2 separate regions of the Homo sapiens genome follow, and region 1 is linked to region 2. A link means that fine-mapping ties the variant in region 2 to the expression of a gene that starts in the linked region. Tissue or cell type: tibial artery. Region 2 holds a variant in brackets; the other region holds the start of a gene. All regions are shown on one strand. Distances are between the middles of the regions.

Region 1 (8,366 bases), 240 kb before region 2:
GTTGTAACATCAATTATTATCTAAGATATTTTTACCTATTTCCTTTTTCTCACCCTTTTGGAAGTGAGTTTCTAAAAATGGAGATATGGATTATGGATTCTTGTATTTAACTGTGGCACCAAAAAAAAGACATGGGAGTACCATCCATTTTGATGTTCATTATACAGGCAGTTTCTGCCTGGTAGTGTTTTGGGTGTTATGCATTATTCAATTCCTTCAATTCAGATATTACAACAAAAAAACTAATACTATTTTTGTTATATTTAAAAAAATTATCTTTCAACAAACATTAATTAATCTTTACTGAGTTTCTTACATATATAAGCACTACTTAAAAGCAGGCCAAAACAAAATGTACCCCCATTTGCCTTTACGATCACAAAATTCTATAGAAATTGAAAATGTGGCAGTACTAAAACTCTAGACCAATATATATCAAACTAAAAATAAAACTGTTTTCCTGTATGTTTATGTTATGTAATTGTATGTAATACATACAATTTTGTATGTAATACAAAATGTATGTTAAAACATAGTTATATAAAACTGTATGTTATGTAATTACATACAGTTATATAAAACTGTATGTTATGTAATTACATACAGTTATATAAAACTGTATGTTATGTAATTACATACAGTTATATAAAACTGTATGTTATGTAATTACATACAGTTATATAAAACTGTATGTTATGTAATTACATAAAACCAGTCAATACTAGAATGCTTTATTTACCAAAAGGATGGCTATCTTCTTTAAACTGGACATAAGATGTACACAAGATGGTGGCCTTGGCGGTTACTCTTCCAACCACTTCCACAATTCCAGAGATTTCTTCATCAAGCTAAGACACAGAACAAGACATCGATTTGGTGATATCACATTTTCAGTTGACAATTATTTTGGAAAACTGTTATACAGGTTACTAATCTATCACTTCAAGTAACAAAGTAATTTTAAGAATTACCAGTGTAAAAGTTAAAATGTAACTTGTTAACAAATGTTTGAGTACTTAACTGTCAGCATGTTAAAATTCCTGCTACCTTTAGCAGTAGCTTCAAGTCCAAAGCTACAATTCAAGTTAAAGACAAAATCACTATTGAAAACGTCCAGCATTTCTATAAGCAGTAATATCCTATGAGAGGAATCTTCTATAATCTGTATTTCACAATGTGTTCTGTATACATTAACCAAACAGCATATGGATTTGTCTTCACAAAATACCAAAAAAAGTTTTAAGTATGTTAAACATAAAATGCAAACATAAATAAGTAAAAACTGGAAATATATGAACAAAAATAGAAAATAAAATAAAATCGAAAACTCTTGAGGGGCTGGTCGAGGCAGGAGGATTGCTTGAGACCGAGAGTTCAAGACCAGCCTGAGGAACATAGGGAGATGCCATCTTTACAAAAAACAAAACAAAACAAAACAAAACAAAACAAAACAAAAATTAGCCAGGCATGGTTAAGCATGCCTGTAGTCCCAGCTACTGGGGAGGCTGACATGGGAGCAACTTGATCTTGGGAGGCTAAGGCTGCAGTGCGCCATGATGGTGCCACTGCATTCCACCCGGGGTAACAGAGTGAGACCCTGTCTCAAAACAAAAAAACAAAAACGAAACAAAAAACCTCTTGAGGAAGAAAAAAGCAACGTAAATTTTTCTTATGTGATTTTATGGTCTTTCATAAGGAATGAGAATTGTTATCCAACATTTATGGGATATGTTCAAAAATCATGACGCCCAAAAAATCATTGGTTAAAAATGTAAAAGGAAATATAATGAGAGAATAGTACAAGAATTAAATTTTACAGCCAGGGACGTTTTACCAGCTCATCCTTTTTAAATCCATTGCAAAAATTAGAAACATCGGCAACAAACCAAATCAAGATGAAGAATTAACTATAATATATAAGAGACTTATTAACACTTAAACATACGGGTTCCATCAACTCGATGGTTCCATTTTTTCCTTCTCCATCTGAAAGAATAAACATTTTTCCGGTGGGATGAATCTAAAAACGAAACATATAATTAAAATCTCACTAAAACAACAACAAAGTTTGACTAAAGATGAGTACATTGATCCTTAGTTGAGCACAAATCAACTGTTTCTTGAACAGTTTATTCATTCAGTTTATTCAACTTATTGGATCAAATTATAATCTTATGTTATCAAATCTGTTCATGGAACACACAGTTAATTTCTGAATTTCAGATAAACAAGGATTTTTTTTGTAGTGTTAAGTAGGTTCTGTATTTGCTAAATATGGCAACCCTATTCTGATAACAAATTAAAGGATGCCCACCCTAAAAGTGAAATCTGCTGGCACTCATGATTTAGACAGTACATATCCCACGGAGGGTATGTTTTAAAAAACAGGCATGATGAAGTAAAAGGAGAACTGGTTGCTAGAATATCTGGGTCCTACTCCTGGGAAGCAGCTGTAAAGAGCGCTGTCAGATTGCGTTTGAATGCCAGCTTTGCCATTTGCCGAGTTTCTGAGCATTTTAGTCAACCACCTACCACTCCTACTCAGTTTCCCTACTTGGGAAGTCAGAGCAACACTCATTTAAGGAAGAGGATGTGTGGATGAAATGAGCTACTAAATAAGTCTTTATATAATAGTTTTCTTTTCCTCAGCTTTTCAGGTCACTGATTCCAAGACTTTGGGCCTGTTTCTCGCCTGTAGAATGAGGGAACTTCACTTTAATACTGGGGTTAAATAACTCGTTACTACGGGACCCAAAGCGGACAACCAAGGCATGTTTTACAGAGAAGCGATCACAACGAGGAAACGAGGTTTGCAAAAATAAGTAATTTCAGAAGAGAAGGAAACCAGCAGATTAGTTTTGTCTGCGTCCGTCACGTCTGAGTAAACTAAGAAATCTGAAGGTAGATGTGGGAGTGGTGTTTATAATTTCCCTTACGTAAGCACGGCTAGAACGGAGGCGACGGGCACTGGAATTTAGAACTCAGCATTTGAAAACACTTTGTTTCCGTGCCATAAAAGAGCGCCAAAATGGGGCTACAACGGCTAAAGAATTTCCAAAAAGTTCCTTGTGCAAAATAAAGGAGTCGGGGGCGCAGTGATCGGAGGCTTTCCGTCCTTTTTCATCCCCCGTTATCCAGGCGGGGTCCCTCCCTCCAGCTACGGACTTGGGAGCCCATGATTGCGAACCCGCACACCTTTTCCAGCCTCCCTACGAAGCAGACAGGCTTGTCGATGAATTGAGCTAGCATGCCGGCGTTGATGCGCGACCTGGGCAAGTCCATCATGTCCACCATGATTATGGTCCAAGACTGCGGCTGGCGGGAAACCCACGGACGACTGAAACTGTGCGCCCCGCGGGTGTCTATGGGGCAGATTTCTCGGCACCAATCAGCGAAGACTAGCGCTCCAGCTTCGCCAATTAAATGCGCGGAAACCTAAATCGCAATCGCGCTGTCTCTGAAAGGGGTGGAGAAGGGGCTGGATGAGTCCGGAAGTGGAGATTGGCTGCTTAGTGACGCGCGGCGTCCCGGAAGTTGACAGATACAGGGCGAGAGGCAGTGGAGGCGGGACTTGGATAGGGGCGGAACCTGAGACTACCTTTCTGCGATCACAGGATTCCCGGCGGTGACTTGACCCCGGAAGTGGGGTGTGAAGCTCCGGTGCTGGTGCGGCGGGGGACTGCGGGGCCAGCCTCAGGTACCTCGTCTCGCGGGAGGCGCCGCAACCTTACTGTTTCCCCATTCTTCCCGCGAACAGAGTCAAAAGAGCTAGGCGGGAGTCGGCACTAGCTGCTGCCGCGGTGCTGTGGGTGCTGCGTACCAGCTGTTCACTGCTGTCTCGCCTTCCCTCTTGCCAGTTCTGCGTGGGAGGCGCGGGAGTTTTGCGGAATGATACGTGGTGTGGCGTCGGGGTTGTGATACCCGCCCCCTTGGAGATGGGCAGCGGGGTCATCAGTGATCTTGATCACTTTCTTCAGGCTTTTGCCACTTGTTGGCTGAGGGTCGATTTACTCCCTTAGCTGCGTCACTCTACTTTCTCCACTTTCTCCACCTGTAAGAAGAGAGATTGATCCGATTACTTCTAAGACGTTTTTTAGCCCAACCTGGCCACACTGCGGAGGCGCCGGTTCTTTCACCCCGCTAACCCCTCCGTGTTGGCAGCCAATAGAAGCACTTAAGGATGGGTAACGGGGAAGAACCACTGGCCAGTACTAGGGGAGACAAGCTTAAATCGTTGTTAGACCCCGAGCTAGGGTTCCCCGAGCTAGGGTTCTCCCTTCTGAGGCGTGTTTTCCCCATCTGCAAAACGAAGGGTTAGGCGGAATGATTTGCAAGGTCCCAGTTGACTCTGACTTTTGGCCATATGTTTGACTCAACAGTTTAAACCCCCTCAGCAGTCTTTCTGTCGTTGCCCTCCACACTGCGAGACTCTGGAGGGCGATCTGGAGGTCTGGAAGATAACCGATTCCTGGGAGATTTGGGGGTAGTCTCCAATCTGTCCCTGGCTCATCTTGTGACCCGAAGCCGGCGGCCTTGCCAGGAGTATTCTAGAATGAGTGCACATAAAAATACCTTCAAACGGTACGGTGGAAATTGGACAGAAGTTTTAATTGGGTATTATAACGTTGTGGAAACTGAGTCTGTGAATTGGCCCAAAGCTACAGAATTGTCATCGTTCAAATTCCCTTAAGCAAAAAAGATCCGATTTGAGACTTCACGTGGCAATTTAAGATTGGAATCTCATGTACGATAATTAAATGATAGTCTCCCTTAGTGTTTCCTTAGCACTTAATAGGTTTGTCTTAGTTTTACTCACTAACGGTACTTTAAAGGATTTCATTAAACAGATGTAGAATGTGTGTCAGTGGTGTATAAAAAAGTTGTGGTTGTATTGGTGCAAGTCAGTAAAGTCTATTTTATATTACAGCTTTAAGTCTTTTGTACTTTAGCATTGTTTTGCAAAGCAAGTTGATGTGCATTATATAGGGGAGAGTACACACATCAATGTCTTTAATAGCATTTTTTTTTGAGGCAAGATCTCTCTCTGTCACCCAGACTGGAGTGCAGTAGCATGCACATAGCTCACTGCAGCCTTTAACTCGTAGGCTTAAGCGATCCTCTCACCTCAGCCTGCCAAGTAGCTGGGACTATAAGCACATACCACCACACCCAGCTAATAAAGATTTTTTTTTTGTTGTTTGTTTTTTTTTGTTCAGATGGGGCCTCGCCATGTTGACCAGGCTTATCTCAAACTCCTGGGCTCAGGCGATCCCTCCCTCCCCCGTCTCCCTCCCAAAGTACTGGAATTACAGGTGTGAGCCTTGGTGCGTACCCTGTAATAGTGATTTTTTTTTTTTTTAAAGAGCACTCCTGTGAGTACCAGATGTTAATGTCGTTGTTTACCTGCAGTTAGAAAGACCACTTTTAAGCAAAGGCTTTCTTTTAAAACAGGGAGATGAGCAGGAAGATAATTTAAAACAGCTTTTTCGTGTATTTTTGAGTCACTTAAAATATTATAAAATACATGATGTACAGAAAAAAGTATAGCTAGCCGATTTGCATAGTTTTGAGAGAAATGAAATGAATCCATGGGGCCTGTCATTCAGCTGAAGAAATGGAACTTTACCAGTTACCAGTAAATTTTACCAGTTTGCACTTCCCCAATGAAGCCCTCCTTGCTACAGCCATAAGTAAACACTATCTTGAAATTTGTGTTAAGCTTCCTAAGCTTTTCTAGGTGGTTTTATCACACATGCAGGCGTTGCTAAATGGTATGTTGTTTAATATTGCCAGTCTTTGACCTTTATATAAACAGAAACGTATGTATCTTCTGACTTCTTTTGTTTGTTTTTGAGATTCATCTATGTTGACGAATGTACGTAGATCATATTTTTTTTTCTGTTACAGGTAGGCATGAGTGGGACAGTAGTGGGCTCTCCCCCAACCCACTAGAAATGTTGGGGGATGGTTTGGCAATTACCGAATTTGCTTCTCTAAAAATGATAATTCTGCAGCGCCAGGGAGAGGCCATTTCCTGATGGTCCACACCTGTTATCAAAATGTTAATTGAATGTAGACCCGAGGGAGAAACAGCTTCCTGGGCATGCATATTAAGAGACAAAAATGGTAAAGTATGATCTTCCAGGTACACTCCACCGGAAAAAGGAAGGAAGCCTCAGATGGGCGTGCATGTAACTCCCTAAAAACACTTCCCAAGGCTAAGGAGGGCTCTGTGCCTGCCGGCAGCCTATCCTAAGGAAAGAATCATGGGAAATAGACAAGCTTGTAAAAGTCCTAGGATCAGGGCCGGGCGCGGTGGCTCACGCCTGTAATCCCAGCACTTTGGGAGGCTGAAGCGGGTGGATCACCTCAGATCAGAAGTTCAAGACCACCCTGGTCAACATGGTGAAACCCTGTCTCTACTAAATATACAAAAAAGTATCCAGGCGCGATGGCGGGGGCCTGTAGTCCCAGCTACTCGGGAGGCTGAGGCAGGAGAATGGCGTGAACCCGAGAGGCGGAGCTTGCAGTGAGCCGAGATCGCGCCACTTCACTCCAACCTGGGCCACAGAGCGAGACTCCCTCTCAAAAAAAAAAAAAACAAACAAACGAAAAAAAAAGGATCAACGGTTAAATCGGACACTTGACCTACTCTCTTTAACCTTCACATTCCCGCTTGGGTCTCTAACAAGCACACCTTCCTTTCTTCCTGTTTTAAGGCCTTTTAAAGTAAACTTCCATTCCTGCTCTGGAACTTGCCTGGGTCTCTGTTTCTGCTTTATGCCCCTCAGTCAAATTTTTTCGTCTGAGGAGGCAAGGACTGAAGTTGCTACTGACCCGTGAGGATAGGCCACCGGTAACTTGGGGTAACTTGGATCTCTGCCACTAGTAAAAAAATGATTTCCCCAAATGGTGGTACCAGTTTACTCTCTTACCTGGAGTATAAGACAGTTTACAGTTATTGTATATTCTTGGCAACTCTTGGAGTTTTTTCCCCCAATTTGATGGATATGAAGTGTTTTTTTGTCGTGACCCTAATTTGCACTCCCTGATTACTGAAAAGTTTGAACATTTTTTCAGATTTTTATTGGTTATTTATGTTTATCTTTTTTTCCTTGATTTTTCTTTTTCTTACTGACTTTTAAGAGCTTTTTATTAGTGAGATATTGTAATGGTACAAGTGTTGTCTGTTTTTGGCCTATCTTTCCGTTTCCTTCCTTCATTCCATCCTTTTTTTTTTTTTATTAGGAAGACCTCTTTTAATATAGTTAAACATTTTCCCCCTTAAGTTTAATGTAGGAGAAAAGTCCATTAAAATCTCATTTATGAATTCTTTGATACATCGTACTCTTAAAGGTATTCTATTTTTCCTAAAATGTTTAGAGTTTTGCCTTTCATATTTAATAGTCCGTCATCTAGAATTCACTCTTCATGTATGTTGTCAGATAAGTCTCCAATCTCTGTTTTGTTTTAATTTCAGTTGTCCTAATGTGATTTGACTGTATCACCTTTTTGCCACCTTCACTTGTCACCTTAAGTTTACAGATATGTGTGGAGTCAATTCTATTCTATGGATCTATTTTTCTATCCCTGAACCACTACCTATTTTCTTTAATAGTGTAGCTTATCATAACTTTTGATGTCTGGGGCTGTGTTCTCGGGAATGTCTTGGTTATTTTTGTCTCTTTGCTCTTCTGTATAGAATGTAGCTTATGAATTTCCAGGAAAAACTGTGTTGGAATTTTGATCAAAATTGCACTGTATCCTTGGATGTATTTCAGGAAAAGTAACACCTGAATGTCAACTCTTACTATCCTTGAGCCATTTTGGTCCTCTTAAAATCTTTCCAAAAGGTCTCATACTTTTCTACATAAAAGTTTTGACTTTTAGCTTAGATTTATTCCTAGATACCTTGTTTTTGTTGCTATTATGAATGGTATCATTTTTTAAATTAAAGATTTTAACTGATTGTTTTGGTATATAGAAATGCCATTTTAAGAATTTTCTATCAGTTTTTTTTGGAATTTTCTATTCATATTTGAATAATTATAGTTTTGTTTCTTAAGAATTCTTACATATTTTATTTATCTTTCTTACCTTTTGCCTAGGATAGAGCCTTCAGTACCATTTTGAATAGAAATAGTGTTTAAGTCAAGATGGGGTTTAGCTGCATAAACAAAAGTATCTTTAATGCACAAACGCTTATTCTCACATGTGAAAGAAGTCCACAGCTGTGCAACTTAGTACTTATGTGGTAGTGCACTAAGACTCAGGGCCCCAGGTTCTTTCTGTCTTTCTGTAGTTCTACATTCAATATCTAGTTCCATATTTATGGTTATCTCATAGGCCAGGTAAGTGATGGAGCT
Region 2 (8,366 bases):
CCATTCCATCAGCAAATTGTGTTCCTTTTACCCTTAAAGTCTATCCAAAATCCAACCATTTTATCTCACCTTTGCTATCCCTGCTCTAATCGACTTCATAAGTAATCTGTCATTCCCAGCTATCTTCCCACTTCTTTCCCCGGCCACCCCACCTCTACTATCTGCTGTCAACCCAGCAACCAGGGTGATTATTTTAAAACATCAGTCAGAATATATCACCTTTCCAACAATATGTTCTTCAAGATTTTTTTCATCTAACATGCAACAATTTAGATGAATCTCATCCACATAATGTTGAGTAAAAGAAGCCAGAAGCAAGAGTTCATACTGTATGATTGCATTCATTTAAAATACAAAATCAGGCCGGGCACAGTGGCTCACGCCTGTAATCCCAGCACTTTGGGAGGCTGAGGAGGGTGGATCACCTGAGCTCAAGAGTTCGAGACCAGCCTAGCCAACATGGTGAAACCCTGTTTCTACTAAAAATACAAAAAGTAGCTGGACATTCCAGCCTGGGTGACAAGAGCAAAACTCTGTCTCAAAATAATACATAAATAAATTAATTAATTAAAAAACAAAACCAGGTAAAACCAATTCTGTGTTGTTAGAAATAAGGATAGTGATTGACAGGACGGGGGTTGATTGTGACTGCAAGAGAACACCAGGAGGGCTTCTGGGGGCTGGTCTTTTCTATTTCCTGATCTGGGCGCTGGTTGCTCATGTGTATTCAGTTTGTAAAAATTTAGCAAGTTACACCCTTATGAAGTATTTTGTATTTTTAGTACAGACGGGGTTTCTCCATGTTGGTCAGGCTGGTCTCGAACTCCCGACCTCAGGTGATCTGCCCACCTTAACCTCCCAAAGTGCTGGGATTACAGGCGTGAGCCACCGTGCCCGGCCCAGAAAATTATTCTTCTCCTTTAGACTTACAGTCTAAGAATTTGTCAGCATTTATAACCATTAGCATTTATAACCAAAGACACAACGTACCAGAATCTCTGGGACACAGCTAAAGCAGTGTGTAGAGGGAAATTTATAGCACTAAATGCCCACGGGAGAAAGCAGGAAAGATCTAAAATCGACATCTAACATAACAATTAAAAGAACTAGAGAAGCAAGAGCAAACAAATTCATAAGCTAGCAGAAGGCAAGAAATAACTAAGATCAGAGCAGAAGCGAAGGAGATAGAGACATGAAAAACCCTTCAAAAAAATCAATGAATCCAGGAGCTGGTTTTTTGAAAGATTAACAAAATAGATGGACCATTAACCAGACTAGTAAAGATGAAAAGAGAGAAGAATCAAATAGACACAATAAAAAATGATAAAGAGGATATCACCACTGATCCCACAGAAATACAAACTACCATCAGAGAATACTATAAACACCTCTATGCAAATAAGCTAGAAAATCTAGAAGAAATGGATAAATTCCTGGACACATACACCCTTCCAACACTAAAGCAGGAAGAAGTCGAATCCCTGAATAGACCAATAACAAGTTGTGAAATTGAGGCAGTAATTAATAGCCTGCCAACCACAAAAAGCCCAATAAATCTTTATTGAGCAGTAGGCACTGATCTAGGCATGTGGAATACAGCAGTGAACATGAGCTACAAAAGCTTCTTGGCTGGGTGCAGTGGCTCATGCCTGTAATCCCAGCATTTTGGGAGGCAGGCAGATCGCTTGAGTCCAGGAGTTCAAAACCAGCTTGGGCAACATAGTGAAATCCTGTCTGTACAAAAAAATACAAAAATTAGCCAAGCATGGTGGCATGCTCCTATAGTCCTAGCTACTTGGGAGGCTGAGACAGGGAGGATACAGTGAGCCAGGATCACGCACTGCGCCCCAGCCTGGGTGACAGAGCGAGACTCTGTCTCAAAAAAATAACAAACAAAAACCACGTAAAAGTAAGTTTTATATAAGTGAGAAAAGGCCTCATTGAGATGGCATCTGGGCTAGCGCTTGGAAGGAGATAAGGGAAGTAGCCCTGTGTATGTCTGGGAGAAGAGCGTCCTGGTCTGAGGGAATGGAAAGCAAAGGCCCTGAGGCAGAAGCAGGCTCGGTGTGCACGAGCAAGCACTTGCAAGGAGCACTAGCAAGGAGACAGTGGGATTGAAGAGGAATAGGCCAGGGCACACGAGCTGGAGATGAGGGCAGAAGCACACCTGGAGCCAGATGGCGAAGGAGCTAGTAGGCCTCTGTAAAGACTTGGGAGTTTCATTCTGCCTGAGATTGAGGGTCAAGGGGGGAGTCATTTTTTTGCCCAGGCTGGTTTGAGTTAGGTTCCAGGTGCTTGTAGTGGCAGGCCATTCATCTTCATTGCTGTAAATAAATTTCAGTTTATTATCCATTCTTCTATTGATTGATATTTAGGTGATTTGCAAGACATATTAATTGTAAAGAAATTGAACAAGATATATCCTTTTTTAAAAAATTGCGTAACTTTTATGACATAACAGGTTAGTTCCAATGACAATCAGACAATCAGTACTCATGGTATACATTAGAGATAAATTATGAGTACATATATATTACTGTCAAATAGTAAAGTGTGCAAGGTTGAAAATACAAAGATATGCCAGATAGACTGCTTGCCTTCAAGGACCCTATAGTCTAGTTGGAGATAAGATATATTTGCATATGGAACAGCAATTTGCAAGGACACATATAGGCAACACCAAATAACATCTTAGGCAATTTGCCCCATAAGCATTCTGAAATAGGCAAGATCACTTTGTACTCCATTGATACAAGATTTTATAGGGCAGCTGAGAATTTAGCAGAGCCTGAAAACGTACATAGGATTTGGAAAAGCGGAGACAGAATTTGCAGACATTATCTGAGCAAGGGAAATAACAAGAAGGCCAGTTTGTGTTTAAGGGGTCTGTGGGTGGTCAGTCTGAGTTAAAGTTTAGGATTCATTTTAAAGCCTAACAGAGATTTGGATGAATGTAATTCTAAAGTAAAGTAAAGAGCTGCGTTCAAATCTGGGAATATTTATATAGCCCACATTGCTCAATCATTTTGATGTATTAATGCCACATTTACCGTTATTCAACCTCAAAGTTCACAAGGCCTAAATGTTTTAAATGTATGTATTTTTAGACCAACAAAGAAAATTCATCCAGTGTGACTGTATCAGACCCTGAGATGGAAAATAAGGCAGGCCAGACTCTGGAGAACAGCTCATTAATGGCCGAGCTCCTGAGCGATGTGCCGTTCACCCTGGCCCCGCATGTGCTGGCAGTACAGGGCACCATCACTGACCTTCCCGACCACTTACTCTCCTATGATGGCAGCGAAAACTTATCACGGTTTTGGTATGATTTCACTCTTGAAAATTCAGTGCTCTGTGATTCATAACCTTTATGTCTGTTTGCACCTTAACAGCTTTAAAATATGTTCGCCTATTTTATCTAACCTGTTTGATGTTCTTTGCCGTTTCACTGTTTAAGGTCCTCAGCAAGGATCATAAAGCAAAGAAAATAGCATTATGTTCACTACTCTATTTTTAAGAAAAAGGTACATTTGTATACAAATTGAACTTAAGTTCTACTTCCTTTCTCCCATATAATAAATATACAAATTAGGCTATGAAGGTTTTAGGAAAGGACTCGATTCCTTCAGATGGTCTCTCAAAATATAACACCTCAAATTTATCTTAGAAGAACTGTGAAAAAGAATTGTGGCATTTTTCAGTCACTACAGCTCCGAAGTCTGAGCAAGAAGTGGGTGTGAAGTCTCCTCTCTGGTTTGTAGGAAGTTGAATT[G/A]GTGTTATTCCTGCATTTTTTTCTTCCACAGTGTTTATGAATGAATTCAGAAAAAAAGTTGCCAGTTAGCTTAATTTCTTCAGATGCATTGATGTGGAAATTTAAAACTTGTCCTAAACAGCAGTGCTAGTTTGCTGATACAAGGATGCTAGACCTGCTCTGCGTGCTCTTTCTGGAGTGGCCCATTTCGGTTTTCTGAAACCCATGGCAGCCCTTTCCATCGTGAATAATCGTTGTGTTCCCACCTTTGTTCTCTGCCTTTTTGCTACTTCAGTGTGCTCTCTGACCAGCTTTCCAAAGAACTTTCCCTGCTTCTGCCTCGGTTGCCATTTGCTCTCCTTACCACATATGTTCCCAGTTTATGAAGAGATCCACATTTCCTTTCAACCCCTCTGCCTCCTGAAGAAAAACATCTCATGATGATACATATTATTGCTGATAACACCCTTATTTAGAAATTTGTTGGCCACAATAGAGATGGAAATGTTTTACTGCTGGAAAAACTGAAATCAACTCATTTCCAATTAGAGTATAGGCAGAACACCTAGATATGACTTTTAGTTCTTGAATATCCATTACTTACTTTAATGAAAACAGAACTGCCATTGGTCAATAAACTGTAAAGGGAAGAGGTAAATTGTGATAGAGAATTTTCTATGTCATGGGAAATTGAAATCACATTTATTTTGATTACCAGCAATATGATTTGTTAACTCTGTGCCAAGTTTTAAGTATATTTTTTCACAAAGATAGAGTGCCATAGTGAAACTAAACACTGTGCATAAAGGTACATGAATTATTCCAGTTTTAAAGTATTATGCATGTTTGTTTAATAAATGTGGCATGGTTTTAATACAAATGCTATGTTATTTAAAAGTTAGAGGAACATTTCTATTGACAAAAATATGCTTCATTTACATATAATGTTACCATATGGTGTTAATGATTAAATTAGATCTTTACATAGTTCTTACAAAGCATCAGTCTAGGAAATATGACTTATTACTGATGCAAACGTGAACATTTTGTAGTAGTTTTGTAAAAGAACATCCTTTTCAAATATCTGTGTTAATGTACCCTTGAAATTAAATGCAAGCACATAGTCAGTTTGTCTAATTTTGTGTGAAATTTTGTCGAAAATACCTAAACATTTCATCTATATTTGTGCCTACCATGTTATAAATGTTCATAAGTACCTTCATGTGTCTATAAAAAATGTTATATTTAAATAAATGTGAATTAAAATAAAATTTTTGATTATTTTCAGATCCAGAAAAATGGGTTTGATTGCATTATTTATATCTGAATGCAAGTTGTTAATTCTTTAGGAGCCAAAAAGTTTAAGTATATAGTTTGTATAGTGCTGGGAAAAATATACGATTTCCTCTTACATGTAAGTTTTAAGGAATAACATTAAAAATGGTAAGATCCCTAGTCCTGGCTTAACAGGACTGGAGGGATTTGAGAGAGATGACATGAGCATTTCTAGATTGATACCATCATCACAACATTTAGTAAGGGCCAATGTTAATGATCTTCTTCTTTAAACAAAAATATTGTGAAAATTACCATTTAATTTTTTATTCTGTATATAAATTAATATTTCTATGAAACATTAGAAATCAATACGTCAACTTCATTTTACCCAAGATAAAATTGAAGCCTAGAAAGACTAAATGACTTAAATCACTTAGTGATAAATAAATGCCTACTTTAATAGTGTTAGTAATTATAATATATGATAACAAAGCTGTATGATATGGTGGGAGAGAGTTCAGGCAATTGAGGCAGCCAGACAGAGTTTGTAATGGCTCCCTCCTTTATAAGCTGTGGGGCTTTCAATCAGTCCCCTAACTTCTGGTGCCCTCAGTTCTCTCAATTGTGAAACACTAATTGTTCATAACTTGTAGCGTTGTGTTAAGTTATAGGTGGTGTATGTCAAATGCCTGGCAGCCTAAAGCCTTGCACATCATCGGTATTCTGGGAAAGGGATTGTTATAATTCTCGTTATTGACCATACACACACAATACTATAATGAAATGCAAAATACATATTAATTGAACTTCTTGAAGAGTAACATAAATAAAACAGCTACCTACGTTAACTGTAGATCCCCCTCCTTCCCAGTTATTTTTTTCCATATTAAATACCTTACTATGAGAAATATTCCTAAAATATGTTAGTTGACTGTTCTGCCTTAACTAAGAATTCCATAGTGAACATTTTTTTCTTTTTCTCGTTATTACAGTCTTTTTCCTAATATATGTTATTGTTGCAAAGTACTATAGATATGGAATGTGCAGGTGATTTTACTGAATCTTATTTATTTATTTGTGACAGAGTTTTGCTCTTGTCACCCAGGCTGGAATGCAATGGCATGATCTCGGCTCACTGCAACCTCCTCCTCCTGGGTTCAAGCGATTCTCTTGCCTCAGCCTCCCAAGTAGCTGCGATTACAGGTGCCTGCCACCATGCCTAATTTTTTTTTTTTTTTTTTTTAGTAGATACAGGGCTTCACCATGTTGACTAGGCTGGTCTCGAACTCCTGAGATGATCCACCCGCCTAGGCCTCCCAAATTGCTGGGATTACAGGCATGAGCCACTGTGCCCAGCCTTGAATCTTATTTTTAGCCCTAAAATATATTCAAGAACTTGCATGTATTTTTTTCCCAAGCTTTCTTTAAAGACATTTGCATTCTTTCCTAAAAACAGAATGAGAGAGGCGATTCTGACCAATTTATTATCCTGGCTAATTAAATTTTGATCAACTGAACTTTTAAAATTGTACCATTAAAATGTTAACAAAGCCACAATTTTTATTAACAATTGCAAATCAAATCCGTAATAGTTTTTTAAGGTAAATATTCATTGACGTCAACACTTATTTTTTTCTTCTCTTAAAGAAAAATGGTAAATTCAAAACAGTATGAAAAAATTCTTCTAAAATTCCCAGAGATTTCATTTCTCATAATTCTAAATGACAGATAAGGAGAAGCAAGGAAAGAATCTCACTCATGTTCTGAAACCGTAGTACATCAGACTACCTCTGTGCCTCCCATGGTAACAATTGATCAATAAGTGAACACTGCCCTCAGTAATCTAGCAAAGAATATGTTTCTTTCAGAGATTAGTGCGTTATCTTATTAATTATGTCAATAACTCACACAAAATATAAGTTTATTGGAAATGCAGTTGAAGGATGGTTTATCTTTTAAAGTTTTTGGGAAATACAGGTTTATTGACATTCTCTTTTGAGCATTTGTCCCATATTACTGAGGGCATGACCTAGGTATTATTGGGAAATCTAAAACTTTCAGAATAAGTCCAATTCCATTCATACTACAGTGGCTTGAAGGATTAAGTATTCTTATGTTTCAGGAAAAGGACTCTTTTTGCCATATGGTTTGGCAGATAGGCGTGTGTGGGAAAGAGAGAAAGAGGTATTGATTGACGCAGGGAACTCTGTTTCAGTCGATGTGACAATATGTCAGTCTTTTAAAAATTTAAATAAACTTTTTATTTTGGAATAGTTTTAGATTCACAGAAAAATTATGAAGGTACTACAGAGAGTTCCCACATACCCCTCACTTAGTTTCCCCTGTTGTTGACATGTCACGTAACTGCAGTACATTTGTCACAACCGAGGAATCAACACCGGTACATTGCAATTAACTACACTGCACACCCCGTTCAGATTTCATAGTTTTCCTCTAATGTCCTTTTTCTCCTTCAGCAGCCTACCTGGGATAGCACATTACATTTATTTAGTCGTCATATCTCCTTAGGCACCTCTTGGCTTCAACAGTTTCTCAGACTTTTTATTTTTGATGACCTTGACAGTTTTGAGGAGTACTGGTTAAGTATTTTGTAGAATATTTCTCAAGTGGGGTTTATCTGATGTTTTCACATGGTTAGACTAGGGATATCGGTTTTTGGAGAAATATTAAAAAGGTGATACCCCCTTCAGTGAGATTATATCGTATTGAGAGTAGTATAAGCTATAGACATGACTTATTACTGATGATGCTGACTTTGAATACCTGGCCAAAGTAGTGCTTCTCAGGTTTCTCCACTGCAAAAGTTATTCCCCCCAACCTTTCTATACTCTTTGGAATTAAATCACAAAGCACAGCCCACACTCAACGAGTGGGTAATTAAACTCCACCTCCTTGAAAGGCAACTATCACATAAATTATTTGGAATTCTTCTGCATGAGAGATTTGTCTCTTTTCCCCAATTTATTTATCAATTATTTATATTAGTATGAACTCAGGAATCTTCAATCTTTTTCCAAGTCTTAATCAGTGCTATCCAAGAGACATATTTACATTTTTATGAAAGTCGATAAAATTTGGAACATTTTACATGGTGCAGATGAATACCATTTTATGTTGGATACGATAGTATATTCTATGGTTTCCTCAAAATTTATCTTCCTGTTAATGTCAGGCATGTATCTCCTTAGCTTGCCACAAATAACTATATATACCACAGACCTTCCTTTGTAGGGCTAACAGTGTTGCATTGTAAGTGGAGGCCTCATAGATACCTGGCCTTTTCCTACCTTATTCCAAAGATGGTTGCATCTTATAA

Evidence for each region. PIP is the estimated chance that this variant, and not a neighbour inherited with it, causes the effect.
Region 1: it holds the start of UMAD1, and the variant in region 2 is fine-mapped to the expression of UMAD1 in tibial artery (GTEx, PIP above 0.99). The same link has a PIP of 0.9 or more in sigmoid colon, subcutaneous fat and whole blood.

What each region holds. Positions count from the first base shown.
Region 1 is chr7:7,637,125-7,645,490 of GRCh38, forward strand. It overlaps UMAD1 (UBAP1-MVB12-associated (UMA) domain containing 1), which reads left to right and starts at 3,628. Exons shown (of 4, transcript NM_001302348.2): 1 at 3,628-3,697. It overlaps RPA3 (replication protein A3), which reads right to left. Exons shown (of 8, transcript NM_002947.5): 5 at 3,196-4,051; 6 at 1,946-2,020; 7 at 740-848. The coding sequence starts at 3,294. RefSeq lists enhancers at 2,809-2,858, 3,229-3,278, 3,549-3,748, 3,789-3,838, 3,919-4,088 and a silencer at 3,319-3,448.
Region 2 is chr7:7,874,174-7,882,539 of GRCh38, forward strand. UMAD1 (UBAP1-MVB12-associated (UMA) domain containing 1) reads left to right here. Exons shown (of 4, transcript NM_001302348.2): 4 at 3,108-5,050. The coding sequence ends at 3,365. All of the region lies in intron 3 of LOC124901586 (a long non-coding RNA gene), which reads right to left. Among named protein-coding and RNA genes, the nearest start is that of GLCCI1-DT, 90 kb to the right of the region's middle. The variant G/A (reference allele first, on the strand shown) is at 3,773.